Linked DNA regions of Homo sapiens: region 2 is linked to region 1. Evidence: fine-mapped expression QTL. A gene starts in region 1. The other region holds a variant in brackets. All regions are shown on one strand. Distances are from middle to middle. Region 1 holds the start of HNRNPM (heterogeneous nuclear ribonucleoprotein M). Region 2 holds the start of PRAM1 (PML-RARA regulated adaptor molecule 1).

What was found. PIP is the estimated chance that this variant, and not a neighbour inherited with it, causes the effect.
Region 2: its variant is fine-mapped to the expression of HNRNPM in whole blood (TOPMed, PIP 0.97).

Annotation. Positions count from the first base shown.
Region 1 is chr19:8,440,537-8,448,857 of GRCh38, reverse strand. HNRNPM (heterogeneous nuclear ribonucleoprotein M) reads right to left here and starts at 3,883. Exons shown (of 16, transcript NM_005968.5): 1 at 3,747-3,883. The coding sequence starts at 3,859. RefSeq lists silencers at 3,375-3,604, 3,845-4,124, 6,699-6,993.
Region 2 is chr19:8,498,114-8,506,434 of GRCh38, reverse strand. It overlaps PRAM1 (PML-RARA regulated adaptor molecule 1), which reads left to right and starts at 3,795. Exons shown (of 10, transcript NM_032152.5): 1 at 3,795-3,870; 2 at 6,655-8,059; 3 at 8,146-8,212. The coding sequence starts at 3,844. RefSeq lists enhancers at 1-90, 130-630, 7,240-7,926 and silencers at 174-433, 544-643, 664-713. The variant T/C (reference allele first, on the strand shown) is at 4,958.

The sequences.
Region 1 (8,321 bases):
CTAAATATATATTTTTATTTTTATAAATAACCAATCCATCTGTTTCTTATTCACCCACAAAATTACTCAGGAAGGGGCCAGGTGTGGTAGCTCACGCCTATAATCCCAGCACTTTGGGAGGCCAAGACGGGCGGATAACGACGTCAGGAGATCGAGACCATCCTGGCTAACAGAGTGAAACCCCATCTCTACTAAAAAAAAATATTAAAAAAATTAGCCAGGCATGGTGGCGGGCGCCTGTAGTCCCAGCTACTCGTGAGGCTGAGGCAGGAGAATGGCGTGAACCCGGGAAGCGGTTCACGGAGCTTGCAGTGAGCTGAGATCGCGCCACTGCACTCCAGCCTGGGCAACAGAGCGAGACTCCATCTCAAAAAAAAAAAAAAATTACTCAGGAAGGGGAGCAGGTTAAGTCATTTATTTTATATATGATACTACATTTAAAAAAATTTTAAAAACCTATACATTCCCCTAAAATGAACTTTTTTTTCCCTGACTATACCCTAACTCTGAATCTTTGCTGACTTTAATTGGAACAGACTTCTCATCAAAATTAAGCAAATCCTATTCTCACACCCAGGAGAGAAGTAACTGCAAAACAAGATTTCCAACCTGGGTTCCCAGATCAAGCTTGCTAGCTCACTGCATTTGTGGTCTACTGCACACTCCACTCCTGGTAGAGAAAGAATTCCAAAGAACCAAGTTTCTATTTTTCTCCTGTCTCTCAAAGGCTTTCAAGATAAAAATCCAAATTCACTGCCCATCAGCTGGCTGCCAGTGCTCCAACCTTAAAACTCTATAGCAACTTCAGTGTTCTTGTTTGTTTGTTTGTTTGAAGAAGGAGTATCGCTCTGTCGCCCAGGCTGGAGTGCAGTGGCCCAATCTCGGCTCACTGCAAGCTCTGCCTCCCAGGTTCACGCCATTCTCCTGCCTCAGCCTCCCCAGTGGCTGAGACTACAGGAGCCCGGCACCACGCCCGGCTAATTTTTTGTATTTTTAGTAGAGACGGGGTTTCACCGTGTTAGCCAGGATGGTCTCTATCTCCTGACCTCGTGATCTGCCCGCCTCGGCCTCCCAAAGTGCTGAGATTACAGGCGTGAGCCGCCGGGCCCAGCCTGTTTTGTTTTTTCTTTTTTTTGGTAGAGACAGGGTTTCACCATGTTGCCCAGGCTGGTCTTGAACTCCTGAGCTCAAATAGTCCTCTCACCTCAGCCTCCCAAAGTGCTGGGATTACAGGTGTGAGCCACTACACCCAGCACAACTTCAGTTCTCGATAAAGCATACACTCAAATCTCTGCTCTTTGGATACTCTCTTCCCTGCCCCTCCCCAACCATCTTCTTCTCCTCCACTTCCACACGTCTTCCTGTCATGGAGGAACAGGTCCCTGCCCCCAGCAGGTGGCGGAGGTCACCTCCTCCATTCTTTCTACCAAGCAACTCCACTAACTTCTATCACAGCATAATTACCTTATGTTATGGTAATTACATAACATACATAACATACAAATATGTTAATGGCCTCTCCACTCTGCATGGAGTGCAAAAGTATAGGCTTCTAAAGAGATTTCCTTAAGACTTGTAATGAAAAAAAAAAAAAAAAGTTTTCCACAGGCCCTATCAAAAATATCCAAGTGTTGCCAGCTTCCTAAACTATCCTCTATGAAGCTAGTACTAGACTTTGAGACTTTGAGCCTCTTTCTCACAACGGCTATTTTATTCTACAATTTTCAGGTTCCAACAGTCCACATGTATTTGTAAAATGACTCAGTCACAAAATGACTATTTGAAAATGGACAGGGGAAAAGGGAAAATTTGTAATCTATTAATTTACCCTATCATCTAGCAAGGTTCTACCAGCACTCCTTCCTGCATACGGTAAATAAATTTATCTTAAAGCCCTCCAAATACCACCCTCAGAAATCCTACCAGCTTCCGTAGATAGACGCTGAAAAAGTCAAAATTAACACATTCCTTCCCAGAGTTTTCAATAGTAAAATGCTGGGAATAGAGGAAGTTTTTCTCATTTCTAAGGGCCAGTAACCATGGTATTTTATTTCTCCCTACTTAAGGAGGGAAAGAATCTGGAATTTTCTCCGGATTTATTATCTACCAATATAGCTAGCACTTAGGGAACGTTCTTAACCTAAGCGCTCAACTAGGCAGGGCGCAGTAGCTCATGCCTGTAACTTCAGCACTTTGGAAGGCCTAGGCAGGAGGATGGCTTGAACCCAGGAGTTTCAGACCAGCCTGGGCAACACCCGGAGACCTCCTCTCTTCAAAAAATTAGCCGGGCATGGTGGTGCCGCGCCTGTGATCCCAGCTACTCAGGAGGCTGAGATGGAAGGATCGATTGAGCCCAGGAGTTCGAGGCTGCAGTGATCTGTGATCGTGCCACTGCATCCCAGCTTGGGTAACAGAGGGAGACCCTGTCTCAAAGAAAAAAATTAAATATATAAGTGCTCAACCGCATTCACTTTTAATCTCCATAAACTAAGCTTCACACATTACAATATGAGGAAGGCAAAGTCACAGACAGAAAGGAAAGAAAACGGAGGGAGTTAGTATTTAATAGCTACACTTTCTGTTTCCGATGATGAAAAAGTTCTGGACATGAAGCAGTGACGGTTACAGCACACTGAGTCAGTATACTCAATGCCACTGAATTATACGCTTAAAAAATGGTTAAAATGGCAAAGTCTACGTTATGTCTATTTTACCACAATGAAATAAATGTCTGGGAAATTCAATGTGTACCCAGGCTTCCCCTTCCTTCCCGGCCGCTGATCTTGGAGCCAAAACCTCTCTGTCTCTCTTAAGTGTCTGTAATCAGAATGAATGAGTTTCACCGGGGCACAAGTCGATGCTTCCTCCTTTAAAGAAACTTTTAAAAGCCAAGGAGTCAAAGAGCCCCAAGCAGGACTCGAAAAGCTGATGAAGTCTGGAAGTAAATGAACCCGCCTCCTGACAGAACAGCTTCCCCGAAACACGGGAAAAAGGGGATTCCTCCCCCGACTTCGTATCTGTCTGCTTCCGAGGGTGAACGCTAAGCAGCAGATCCCATCTCTCCACTAATACCTGCGGCGCACCCGGGGAGGAGGAGCGGGAAACGGCGAGGGACTTGAGCCAGGGCCAGAGCGTGGGGCGAGGGGCGGTTCCGAGGGAGGCACTTCCCGCGGAGCGCGGTCGGCGCGCGGGGACTAAGGGGCGGGGCAGGAGGGGAGCCCCCCGACCCGGCTTCGCGGCCCTTCCTGACGCTTCCCTCGCTCGGTTACCGTTGACTCGGGCTGACTGCGCGCGAGGCCTCCCGGGCGCGCACCCTCTCTCCTCCCCCCACGTTACGGATCAGAAAACAGACCCCGGGAGGAGAGGGGACGGGGGGCTGAAACCCGGCCCCCGAGGTCACCCTCCCGGGGAGCGGTCGGGTAGGCCTCGGAGGCTCTCCGGTCCGGGCCCGCGCCATCAACCCCCATGCGCAGCAGCTGGGCCTGAGGCCTCGACTACGGGGTTGGCCCCGGCCTGGAGGGACTGAGGGTGGCGAGGCTCGAGGCCCGGTGTAGGGGACGATTCTGGAGGCTCCCCCGGCTCCCCGCTCACGGCCCTAGACGCCGCTACCCTGAGCAGGCGGTACGGGAACAGCCGGGGCCGAGGCCGCGCCGGGGCTAGGCCGCCAACAGACCTAACGGAGCCGCCGCCCGCGTCGGCCGCGGAGAGGAACCCTTACCCGTGGCAAAGGACCGTGGGATACTCACCCCTTAGGGCCCGGAGCCCCGTTGCCGCTCGGCACGCCGGGCGCGCCGCTCTCTTCCTCCATTTTGATCTCCGTCGCCGCCACCTCCGCCGCCGCTTCGACCCCTGCCGCCATTTTCTCCGCGTCTGGGCTTTGTGTGAGCGAACGGGCTGCACCGCGCTGCGCCTGCGCGCCCACGTGACCCGACGCAACCAGTAACACCTGCGCCCGCCGCTCCCGGCTGCCTCCTTGGCCCCACTCGCCCCGGGCCACGCCCCCGCCGCGCGCAGGCGCAGACCGGCAGCTGTTGATCGCTTCTCTCTCGAGATACACTCGCGTTAGGCACCGACTGGCTGTTCCCGGCGCGCGTCCTCTGAGTCCGATAGAGGAGGCATCTCCCCACCCCACCCCACACAAACACCTAGACCTAGTCACTCTCAGCTTTCTGTAACCAGAGCTGGAGCAGAGGGGAAGCAATGATCCTGTCTAGAGATTCCTGGAAGTTTTAGATGAAGCTTGTTCAACCCGCGGTCCGGCACACGATTCGTAAACTTTCTTAAAACATTGTGTCTTTTTGTGTGATTTTTTTCTTTTTGTAACGCAATTGCGCGGTTCTCCAGCGCGAACTTTGTAGGCAACAACGGAACGGCATGGAATAATATCAGAGTATTATCCGTAATTCGCATTATAATTGCAAACAGTTCGTCCAGAAGAAACGGAAAACTGTTAAAATTCACTAATAATGGGGCCAGGCGCGATGGCTCACTCCTGTAATCCCAGCACTTTGGGTATGGGAGGCCGAGGCGGCGGATCACCTGAGGTCAGGAGTTCGAGACCAGACTGGCCAACATGGTGAAACCGCGTCTCTACTAAAAATAAAAAAATTAGCTGGACGTGGTGGCGGGCGCCTGTAATCCCAGCTACTCGGGAGGCTGAAGCAGGAGAATCGCTTGAACCCAGGAGCCGGAGGTTGCAGTGAGCCGAGATCACGCCACTGCACCGCAGCCTGGGAGATAGACTGAGACTCCATCTCAAAAAACAAAAAGATAAGTATTGAGTACTGGGCTTAATACCTGGGTGATGAAATAATCTGTACAACAAACCTCCATGACAAGTGTTTACCTATTTAACAAACCTTCACATTTACCCCCAAACCTAAAAGTTAAAAACAAAATTAAAAAAAAAATTAATGGCTGGGCGCGGCAGCTCACGCCTGTAATCCTACCACTTTGAGAGGCCAAGGCGGGTGGATCACGAGGTCAAGAGATCAGACCATCCTGGCCAACATGATGAAACCCTGTCTCTACTAAAAATACAAAAATTAGCCGGGTGTGGTGGCAGGCGCCCATAATCCCAGCTACTGGGGAGCCTGAGGCAGGAGAATCGCTTCAACCCAGGAGGAGGAGGTTGCAGTGAGCCAAGATCGGGCCACTGCACTCCAGCCTGGTCACAGAGTGAGACCCCATCTCAAAAAAATTAAAAATAATAATAAAGAGCGAGAGGACTCTTGCAATGTTGCATAAAGTGAACTGTGACAGAATTCAGGGTGTATTCTGTACTAGGCATAATGCTGTATGGTCTTATTTTTGTGTGCATTCGTGGCATCAGTTTTATGGTGCTGTGCAGCCTCCAATGTGCCATTTTCCAAGTGCAGACAGTCGAATTGGCACCATCAGATGTTACGTGTGCTTGTGGCAACTTGGGCAGTAAGATGCAGCGATTATCTTTTTGAGACGGAGTTTCGCTCTTGTTGCCCAGACTGGAGTGCAATGGCGCCATCTCGGCTCGCTGCAACCTCCGCCTCCTGGGTTCAAGCGATTCTCCTGTCTCAGCCTCCCGAGTAGCTGGGATTACAGGTGCATGCCACCACGCCCGGCTAACTTTTGTATTTTTAGTAGAGACAAGGTTTCATCATATTGGTCAGGCTGGTCTCGAACTCCTGACCTCGTGATCCGCCTGCCTCAGGCTCCCAAAGTGCTGCGATTGTAGGCGTAAACCACTGCGCCTGGCCTTCAATGCAGCGATTATCAATAATATATTTTTTTCTTTTTTTGGAGACAGTCTTGCTCTGTCACAGAGGCTGGAGTGCAGTGGCACCATCTCAGCTCACTGCAACCTCCGCCTCCTGATTTCAAGCGATTCTTCTGCATCAGCTTTCCAAGTATCTGGGATTACAGGTGCACACCACGACGCCTGGCTAAGTTTTGTATTTTTTAGTAGAGATGGGGTTTTGCCATGCTGGCCAAACTAGTCTCAAACTCCTGACCTCAGGTGATCTGCCCACCTCAGCCTCCCAAAGTGCTGGGATTACAGGTGTGAGTCACCGTGCCCAGCCTATCAATAATATTTCAATCTACCTTTGTAAATGATAGCTCACTGCAACCTTGAACTCCTGAACTCAAGCGATCCTCCCCTGCTTAGCCTGTCAAGTAGCTGGGACTGTAGGTGCACGCCGCTGCACTTGGCTAATTTTTTATTTTTATTTTTTGGTACAGATAGGGTCTTGCCGTTTTTCCCAGGATGGTCTCGAACTCCTGAGCTCAAGGGATCCTACAGCCTTGGCCTCCCACAGTGCTGGGATTATAAGCGTGAGCCACTGTGCTGGTCCTTAGAGGATTATTAAAGACAGGTTAACACCAAACTAAAACTCTTCTCTATGAAAGTATTAGAATAGATTTGCAAAGAAAACACTTTTCCTTCTCTCTCTCTCTGTTTCTTTCTCTTTTTGTAGAGACAGGGTCTTGCTATGTTGGCCAGGCTGGTCTCTAACTCCCAGCCTTCAAGCAATCCTCCTGCCTTGGCCTCCTAAAGTGCTGGGATTTCAGGCATGAGTCACCCCATCTCGTCTCTCTCTTCCTCATGGCATGTCCTGAGGCATCTGTACATCAACTCCTGGGGCACCACAGGCCAAAGTTGGCCTGAGGAAAGATGGGTGTCAGGCTGTGTAGGGAGTTCAGCTGCAGGAGCAAGGAAGGCCCCCCCAAGGGGCAGGAGAGCTCATGCGCACTGGTGTGATGCTCCGTTTTTGCAGACCACTGGTGCGTCAGTCACCCCATGCCTAGGAGGCCCTGCCCATCTCTCCAGCCACCTGCCCCTCAATCACACTGCTCCAGCCCTGGGGTTCCTCCCTGCTGCTCTTCCTACAGGCTAAGCAGTTTCCAGCCTCTGGGCCTTTGTGCTTAGCTGTTTCCTCCACTCCCATGGCCACACAGGCTTCTCCTTGCCCTTCCAGTCCAGGCAGAAAGTTTTTCTTCCTTTGTGAGTGAGCTACATACCAGGCAGGGATTCATATGGAAAACAGACCTTGAGCAATCAGCTCCTCCACTCTGAGGCTCAGTTTGCTTAACTGAAAATATGGATAATAAGAAATGCAATGCACCAGGCTGGGCACGGTGGCTCACGCCTGTAATCCTAGCAGTTTGAGAGGCCGAGTCAGGTGGATCATTTGAGGTCAGGAGTTCAATACCAGCCTGGCCAATATGGCGAAACCCCATCTGTACTAAAAATACAGAAATTAGCCAGGCATGATGGTTGGCGCCTGTAGTCCCAGCTACTCAGGAGGCTGAGACAGGATAATTGCTTGAACTCGGGAGGTGGAGGTTGCAGTGAGCAGAGATAGTGCCACTGCGCTCTAGCCTGGGCAACAGGGCGAGACTCCGTCGAAAGAAAGAAAGAAAAGAAAGAGAGAGAGAGAGAGAGAGAAAGAAAGAAAGGCACCAGAACTCACCTTTCAGGGTTGCCCTGAGCTTTAAAAGCAGACAGATGCCAAGAGCCTTTAAATATAAAAGAATCGGCAGGCAGAAAGCGCTGAAGAAGTAGGTGTTGTTATTAGATTAACTGCATTCTGGGCCAGGCTCGGTGGCTCACGCCTGTAATCCCAGCACTTTAGGGGGCCGAGGTAGGTGAATCACCTGAGGTCAGGAGTTCGAGACCAGCCTGGTCAACATGACAAGACTTCATCTCTACTAAAAATACAAAACTTAGCTGCCTGTGGTCCCAGCTACTTGGGAGGCTGAGGCAAGAGAGAATCACTTGAACCCGGGAGGCAGAGGTTGCAGTAAGCCAAGATCACCAAGATCACGCCACTGCTCTCCAACCTGGGTGATGGAGTAAGACTCTGTTTCAAAAAAAAAAAAAAAAAAAAAAAAAAACACGTATTCTGCATCTTTCCTGAGTCTTCCTCCAAAAGGAGTCCTGGTGTCACCCCGGCTCCACTTCCTACAGCTCTGAGACCTTAGATTAAGGCTTCCCTGCCCTGGGCCTCAGTCTTCTCACCTGTAAAATGTAGGTAATAACCACTTCTTCCCTAACAAGTGACAGTCAAAGGAGGGAGAGACTCGGAACTATGCCTAATCTATAGTCACCCTAAGTCAGCGTGGATATTGTCACCATTTTTAAAAAATTGTTTGTTTGCTTTAGAGACAGGGTCTTGCCCTGTTGCCTAGAATAGACAACAGAAGTATAATTATAGCTCACTGCAGCCTGGAACTCCTGGATTCAAGGGATCCTCCCACCTCAGCCTCCTGAGTAACTGTGACCACAGGTGCATGCCACCATGCCCAGCTAATATATATATATTTATATATTTATTTATTTA
Region 2 (8,321 bases), 58 kb before region 1:
CACCACCTGTCCTCCACCGTTCACCCTGTCCACTGCAGAAACGACCTCCTACCCTCAAGCCGGCCCCCAACCCCCATGCACAGGAGCCCAGCCCTCTTGGGCCCCGGCTCCGCCCAGCAGGGGGCGCCCAGGAATCTCAGACTCGGGGGAATGAAAGCCGGGAGAGCAGTGGGGATAGCGGGCAGGTTGGCTGGAAGCCGCGGGCTCGCGCTGAACAGCTCTGAGGCCGGCCAGAGGCCCGTGCCCGGCATTTGTCCAGCCCCAGCTGTCACTTGCAGGTGCCGGTCCGGTTACCCTCATTGCGGGCCAGGAGCGGGGAGGTGGAGGGCGCCCTGCGGCCCTGGGATCCGCCGCCCACGTGCTCCCCGGGCTCCTCCCCCTGCACACCGTTGTTCGCGTTTCCGACCCCGCAGATTCCCCAAGGCGCGCCCTAACGAACTCTCACTCCCCTGGTCCGGGCTCCCTTCTCCGGGATTCCGGTAACCCTATCTGTCCCTGTCTGCAGCCGCGCCGCGCGGAACCCTGCCGGGAGCCCCTACGGAGGCGCCAAATACACAAAGGGTAGTTGGCGGGGAGGCGCACCATGACTACAGCTCCGGGACCTGCGCTTCACCCCCACGGCGCCCCCGTGGGGCCTTGGTGCGCGCGCCCTGGCTGGACCCTCCTAGCTGCGAGAGTGCACGGGTAGTGACCAGCCCAGGCACCTGGGAATCCATCAGCTGTCATCCAATCCTTTAATTACCTTGATTGAGCTCCTTACTGTGGCCAAGCATTGCTTGATTTATTTATTTACTTATTTTTATTATTTAATTTAATTTTTTTTTTTTTGAGACGGTGTCTCGCCTTGTCACCCAGGTTGGAGTGCAATGGCGCAATCTCAGCTCACTGCAACCTCCGCCTCCCGGGTTCAAGCGATTCTCCCGCCTCAGCCTCCCAGGTACCTGGGATTACAGGTGTGCACAAACAGTATTTTTAGTAGAGACAGGGTTTCATCATGTTGGCCAGGCTGCTCTCGAACTCCTGACCTCAGGTGATACGCCCGCCTGGCCTCCCAAACTTCTGGGATTACAGGCGTCAGCCACCGCGCCTGGCCACTTGTTCTTTCTTTCATTCTTTCCTTCACTTGCCAAGGTTCTGGAGACCCACAGAGAGCCCATACTGTCCTCCCGAGACTCCTTTTTGGGAGGGCAACCCACATCTGGGAACTGTGCCCCAGGACAGGATGCAAAGGCACAACAGAGATGGCAGAATCCTGATGTCTGTGCTCTTAAAGGAGGCGTGAAAACAGGCAGGCCAGGCGCAGTGACTAAGGCCTGTAATCCCAGCACTTTGGGAGGCCCACGTGGGTAGATTGCTTGAGGTCAGGAGTTTGAGACCAGCCTGGCCAATGGTGACACCCCAGCTCTGCTAAAAATCCAGAAAATTAGCCGGGCATGTTGGCAGGCACCTGTAATCCCAGCTACTTGAAGCCGGGAGGCAGCCTGGGAGACAGAGCAAGACTTTGTCTCAAAAAAAAAATTTTAAAATGTTTTAAAAATACTTGCTCGGGCCACACCCCAGACTGATTAAGTCAGAGTTTCTTGTAGGTTCTGTTTTTTGTTTTGTTTTTTTTTAGATGGAGTTTTGCTCTGTCACCCAGACTGGAGTGCAGTGGAGCCATCTCGTCTCACTGCAACCTCCGCCTCCTGGGTTCAAGCAATTCTCCTGCCTCAGCCTCCCAAGTAGCCAAGATTACAGGCATGCGCCACCACGCCGAGCTAATTTTTGTATTTTTAGTAGAGATGGGGTTTCTCCATGTTGCCCAGGCTGGTCTTGAACTCCCAACCTCAGGTGATCAACCTCAGGTGATCCACCCGACTCAGCCTCCCAAAGTGCTGGGATTACAGGCGTGAGCCACACTGCCCAACCGCCGGTTCTTTTTTTTTTTTTTTTAACTGTTCAGGCAATTCCAACATGTGCTCAAACTGAAAACCAGGGCTCTCTACTCTCTTAGCAGGTGTTTTCTCCCTTTGTCTACCGTGACGGAGATTACTGATCTCCTGTGGGCTGAGCTCTGTGGTCAGGGCTTGTCCTTATCTGGCCAGTCCTCGGCACCACAAGTGACTGCCTTCACCCCCTCTTGGCCCCTGTCTCTGTCTCCTGGTTCCTCTTCTCTCTACTACCTCTAACCTCTGGGAATCTGGTGTGTCCTCGGGTCCTCAGACCCCCTCACTCCTCCAGAACTGCAAAGCCTTTTTTTTTTTTTTTTTTTGAGATGGAGTCTCTCTCTGTCACCCAGCATGGAGTACAGTGGCGTGATCTTGACTCTGCAACCTCCGCCTTCAGGGTTCAAGTGATTCTCCCACCCCAGCCTCCCAAGCAGCTGGGACCACAGGCGTGCACCATCACACCTGGCTAATTTTATATTTTTTGTAGAGATGGAGTCTTGCTACATTGCCCAAGCTGGTCTTGAACTCCTGGGCTCAAGTGATCCTCCTGCCTCAGCCTCCCAAAGTGTTAGGATTACAGGCGTGAGCCACCGTGCGTGGCCCAGGTGCAAGGCCTTTGACACCACTCACCCACCGACCCCCAAATCTGCTGTACCAGCTAAGCTTTCTGCCCAGGGCGGCAGCCTGGGACATCCATGGCCTGTGATATCTGCCCCAGAACAAGTGAGTCCTGCTCAGAGCCGGGAATTGGATTTCATGGAAGTGTTGAAATGAGGAAGGCGGATGAGCCAACCAGGGCAGACAGCAGAGGCCTCACCCGGTCACATGGGCCCCCACGTCCTGGGCCTCTGGGCCTCCCCAGGAGCCTCCTAAACCCCAGAGCTGTCCGTACCCCTGATCTGCTGAGATCTCCCCATCCTGTGGCTCTCTAGCCCAGGAGGTCACCAGGGCCTGGCATGGAGTCCTCCCTGGAGTCCAGAGATGGGGACACCAAAGTAGTAGGAATGATGGGGACTATAGAGAGTAAGAAACTAGTTGGCCAGGCGTGGTTGCTCACGCCTGTAGTCCCAGCACTTTGGGAGGCCGAGGCGGGCAGATCATCTGAGGTTGGGAGTTTGAGACCAGCCTGACCAACATGGTGAAACCCCGTCTCTACTAAAAATACAAAAAATTAGCCGGCAGTGGTGGCACATGCATGTAATTCCAGCTACTCAGGAGACTGAGGCAGGACAATCGCTTGAACCTGGGAGGCGGAGGTTGCAGTGAGTCGAGATTGCGCCACTACACTCCAGCCTGGGCAACAAAGTGATACCCCGTCTCAAAAAAAAAAAAAAAAAAAAAAAAAAGAAAGAAACTAGTGACCATGTTAGGAACATGCGGGCAACCAGTGCCCCAAGCTTGGGACAGTAGCAGGCAGGACAGGAATTCAAGCGAAATAGAAGTGCCCAGCAGGGGCCGGGGCAGTGGCTCACACCTGTAATCCCAGCACTTTGGTAGGCCGAGGCGGACCGATCCCTTGAGGTCAGGAGTTTGAGACCAGCCTGCCCAACATGGTGAAACCCCTTCTCTACTAAAGATACGAAAAGTAGCCAGGAGCGGTGGTGCGCGCCTGTAATCCCAGCTACTCAGGAGGTTGATGCAAAAGAATTGCCTGAACCCGGGAGGCAGAGGTTGCAGTGAGCCGAGATGGCACCATGGCACTCCAGCCTGGGCGACAGAGCAAGACTCAGTCTCAAAAAAAAAGAAGTGGCTGGCAGGATCTGGAGACGGACTGGAGCCTCCCCACCTCCTTCCCTTCCTCCTCTGCCCTCCCCCGCCCCACCTCTAGCAGCCCCCACCCTGTGTGCTGACCGTGGAGCAGAAGCCACAGTCACTTCCTGAAGGCAGCGGCCCCAGCTCGGGTCCCACTCATCCCATGGCCCATCACCTGCCTGCAGCCATGGTGAGTGCTGGAAGAGGCCTGTGCCTCACTGGCTGGGAAGCAAGGGACACAGATGTTCCCAGAAGGATAGGATCCACCTGTGGAGGGGCGGGCGGGGGGGCGGGGGGTGGCTGCGAAAGACATCTGGGAAACGGGAAGGGTCGGCAAAAAGGACCCGAGGTAGGCGGCCACCAGGCACACCCCAGGACAGCGCGGGCTCCTGGGGGTTCACGCTCAGGTTGGGACTGCGAGGGGGACAGATGGGACTCCCCGGGGGGACAACTCCCGTCTCCCCAGGTCAACATGAGCAGCCATGTGGGAACGGGCTGCTGGGGTGAGAGCAGTGCTTTCCTGCGGGGTGACAAAGTGGGTCATGACCCTCCCCCGTCCAGTCACCCAAGTTGTGACCTGCTAACCCTGACTTATCTAGCCCTGTGGTCGCCCGGGAGCACTTCCTTCAAACCACTCGGGGCTTTGACAGGGGCACTTCAGGCCCCAGGTGGGAATTGCTGCCTTTCCAAGGAGCAATCCTGGTCTCTGGTCCTCTGGATGGGGAAAGTGAGGCACACGCAGGAAGCAAAGGCCACACGTTTCTGCCCTTTCCCTCCCCCAATCTCCTTGACCACAGGTGAAAGGGGCGTTTGTAGGACTAAGGAGGCCTGGCCTTCTTGTGAATCTGCCTACCTCTGTGAGGAGTGGTTGCAGGGCCAGCTAGGAGGGCAGCTGGGACAGCTGGGTATGCAGGAGACAGCGCCTGTGCCCACGGTGTCTGCACCAATCCTCTCAGGCACTGTCAACTGTGAGCATTCCTGACCATCAGCCCGCATGTCAGAGACGGTGTGAGAGGGACCGCATGGCCGTCTCCAGGCATCTCTGTGTTTTCCTGATGGTCAGGCTGAGTACATGGCTGTCTTTGTGCTGCCTGAATATTGTTTATTTCAGCAAATATTTACTGAGCACCTACCATGTTCCAGGCCCTGGGAAGACAGCAATGAATGAGCCAAGTCTCTGCCTTGCAGAGGCTGAGGAACTGAGGGAAGTTGTGGTGTAGAGAGACAAAAAAAAAAAAAAAAAAAAATCAAGACACATTAAAAACAATGTAAAATAG[T/C]ATAATACGTAGGGGTGGGTACGATGGAGAAAATCATGCATGCTGAATGCAGGGCAGTAGTGGGATGGGGTGATCCATTTAAAATAGGGTGGTCTAGGCCAGGCGTGATGGCTCATGCACTTTGGGAGGCCGAGGTGGGTGGATCACTTGAGGTCAGGAGTTCGAGACCAGCCTGGCCAACATGGTAAAACCCTGTTTCCATTAAAAATACAAAAAAAATTAGCCAGGCGTCGTGGCAGACACCTGTGATCCCAGCTACTCAGGAGGCTGAGAATCGCTTGAACCCAGGAGGCGGAGGTTGCAGTATGGCGAGATTCCACCACTGCATTCCAACCTGGGTGACAGAGTGAGACTCCGTCTCAAAAAAAAAAAAAAAAAAGAAAGAAAGAAAAATAGGGTGGTCTAGGTTGGGCACGGTGGCTCACACCTGTAATCCCAGCACTTTGGGAGGCTGAGGCGGGTGGAGGGTGGATCACCTGAGGTCGTGAGTTTGAGACCAGCCTGGCCAACGTGGTGAAACCCTGTCTCTAGTTAAAATACAAAAATTAGCCAGGTGTGGTGGCGAGTGCCTGTAATCCCAGCTACTTGGGCGGCTGAGGCACGAGAATCATTTGAACCTGGGAAGTGGAGATTGCAGTGAGCCGAGATCGCGCCATTGCACTCCAGTCTGGGTGACAGAGCAAGACTCCATCTCAAAAAATAAAAATAAACAAATAGGGTGGCCTTGGATGGCCTCTCTAATAAGAAAATATGAGAACAGAGGCTGGGAGGAGGAAAAGGAGAGACCCAGGTGGTGCAGAGACATGTCCTGGGTCAGGGACAGGGCAGAGGCCCCGAGGTCGGAGGGAAGTGTTCAGGGTGCAGGGAGGAGAAGGTGGCTGGGTAGGGAGGCTGGTTCGCCCAGGCTTTTATGAGGCATTTAGCTTGAACTGTGGGGACATGAGGAAGCATTGCCGAGTTTTGAGCAGAGGGACACAAACAGACTCAGGGTTCAACAGGCTTCTCCCTCCAGCTGCCATGGGGGGAACTGACCAGGGAAGGGGGTAGGCAGAGGCCCAGGGAAGGGCTTGTTAGAGTAATCCAGGCAATTGGTTGGGGGAGGGCAGACACTGCCTCCCACTACCTCCTGGGGTGACAGTGGTGAAGGCAGTGAGAAGTGGTTGGATTCCGGATGTGTTTTGAAATTAGCACAGAAGGGACTGGGGGCCTGGGCGCGGCGGCTCAAGCCTGTAATCCCAGCTACTGGGGAGGCCGAGGTCGGGGGAATCATTGGAGCCCAGGAGTTGCAAGCTGCAGTGAGCTATGATTGCACCACTGCTCTCCAGCCTGGGCAATGGAACGAGACTGGAGACATGCAGTGGGAGGGGTGAAAGAATGAGGGGGTCAAGGATGCTGGGGGGGTGGGGTACCACCCATGGGGGGAGGGCAGTGGGACTGGAGGCTGCAGGAGGGATGTCGGGATCTCCAGTGCTGCTAGAGGAGGTTGGGTGTGGAATCAGCACTAAATGGAGAAGTAGGGAGGGGTGTCGGTCCCAGGATCCTAGGATCCATGGGGGCTCCTGGGAAAGAGCTGAGGGCTGACCGGGCCTGGGCGCAGGGGTGGTGGTTGTGGGCTGTGCCTGAGGGTCCCCAGGCCCATCCTTCCATGCCCCTTCTGTGTGTTTGAGCCCCTGCCTCATTGGCTCTGCGTCTCCTAGGAGAGCCATCAGGACTTCCGGAGCATCAAAGCAAAGTTCCAGGCCTCTCAGCCGGAGCCCAGCGACCTGCCCAAAAAACCTCCGAAGCCTGAGTTTGGTAAACTGAAGAAGTTCTCCCAGCCTGAGCTAAGCGAGCACCCCAAGAAGGCCCCGCTGCCTGAGTTTGGTGCAGTGTCCTTGAAGCCCCCGCCGCCTGAGGTCACTGACCTCCCCAAGAAGCCCCCGCCGCCTGAGGTCACTGACCTCCCCAAGAAGCCCCCGCCGCCTGAGGTCACTGACCTCCCCAAGAAGCCCCCGCCGCCTGAGGTCACTGACCTCCCCAAGAAGCCGTCCAAACTGGAGTTGAGTGACCTCTCCAAGAAGTTCCCACAGCTGGGGGCCACTCCGTTTCCAAGGAAGCCCCTGCAGCCTGAGGTCGGTGAGGCCCCTTTGAAGGCCTCGCTGCCGGAGCCTGGTGCGCCGGCCCGGAAACCCCTGCAGCCCGACGAACTCAGTCACCCCGCCAGACCCCCCTCCGAACCCAAATCCGGCGCATTCCCCAGGAAGCTCTGGCAACCCGAGGCCGGTGAGGCTACCCCGAGGTCCCCGCAGCCTGAGTTGAGTACCTTTCCCAAGAAGCCTGCGCAGCCTGAGTTCAACGTGTACCCCAAAAAGCCTCCGCAGCCTCAGGTCGGTGGCCTCCCTAAGAAGTCCGTGCCGCAGCCTGAGTTCAGCGAGGCCGCTCAGACTCCCCTCTGGAAGCCTCAGTCCAGCGAGCCGAAGCGCGACTCCAGCGCCTTTCCCAAAAAGGCCTCCCAGCCTCCGCTGAGTGACTTTCCCAAGAAGCCTCCGCAGCCTGAGCTTGGGGACCTCACCAGGACCTCCTCAGAGCCCGAAGTCAGCGTGCTTCCCAAGAGGCCGCGGCCGGCCGAATTCAAAGCGCTCTCCAAGAAGCCCCCGCAGCCCGAGCTGGGCGGCCTCCCCAGGACCTCCTCAGAGCCCGAGTTCAACTCACTCCCCAGGAAGCTGCTGCAGCCGGAGCGCCGGGGGCCACCCCGCAAGTTCTCACAGCCTGAGCCCAGCGCTGTCCTCAAGAGACACCCGCAGCCTGAGTTCTTCGGTGATCTCCCTCGAAAGCCTCCACTCCCCAGCTCCGCTTCCGAGAGCTCACTGCCTGCGGCCGTGGCCGGCTTCAGCTCCCGGCACCCGCTCAGCCCTGGGTTTGGAGCGGCTGGGACACCCCGCTGGAGGTCAGGAGGCCTGGTTCACAGTGGAGGGGCCAGGCCAGGCCTCAGACCCAGCCATCCACCCCGGCGGAGGCCTCTGCCCCCTGCCAGCAGCCTGGGACACCCTCCAGCCAAGCCCCCGCTGCCCCCGGGGCCCGTGGATATGCAGAGCTTTCGGAGACCCTCTGCAGCATCCATAGGTGGGTGAGGGCGGGCGGCACCGGCAGGAGCGGGGGCTGAGGTCCCAGGCAGTGCCGGCTTCCCTGCCCTACTCTCTACCCCACAGATCTACGGAGGACCCGCTCGGCCGCTGGGCTCCACTTCCAGGACCGACAGCCTGAAGACATCCCGCAGTGAGTGTGGGGAGGAAGCGGAGGTGGGTGCGGATTGTGGGGCTCAAAGAGGCCTCATCTCGGCCTGGAGCTCCCAGAACTTCGGGAGGCTGAAGTGGGCGGATCTCCT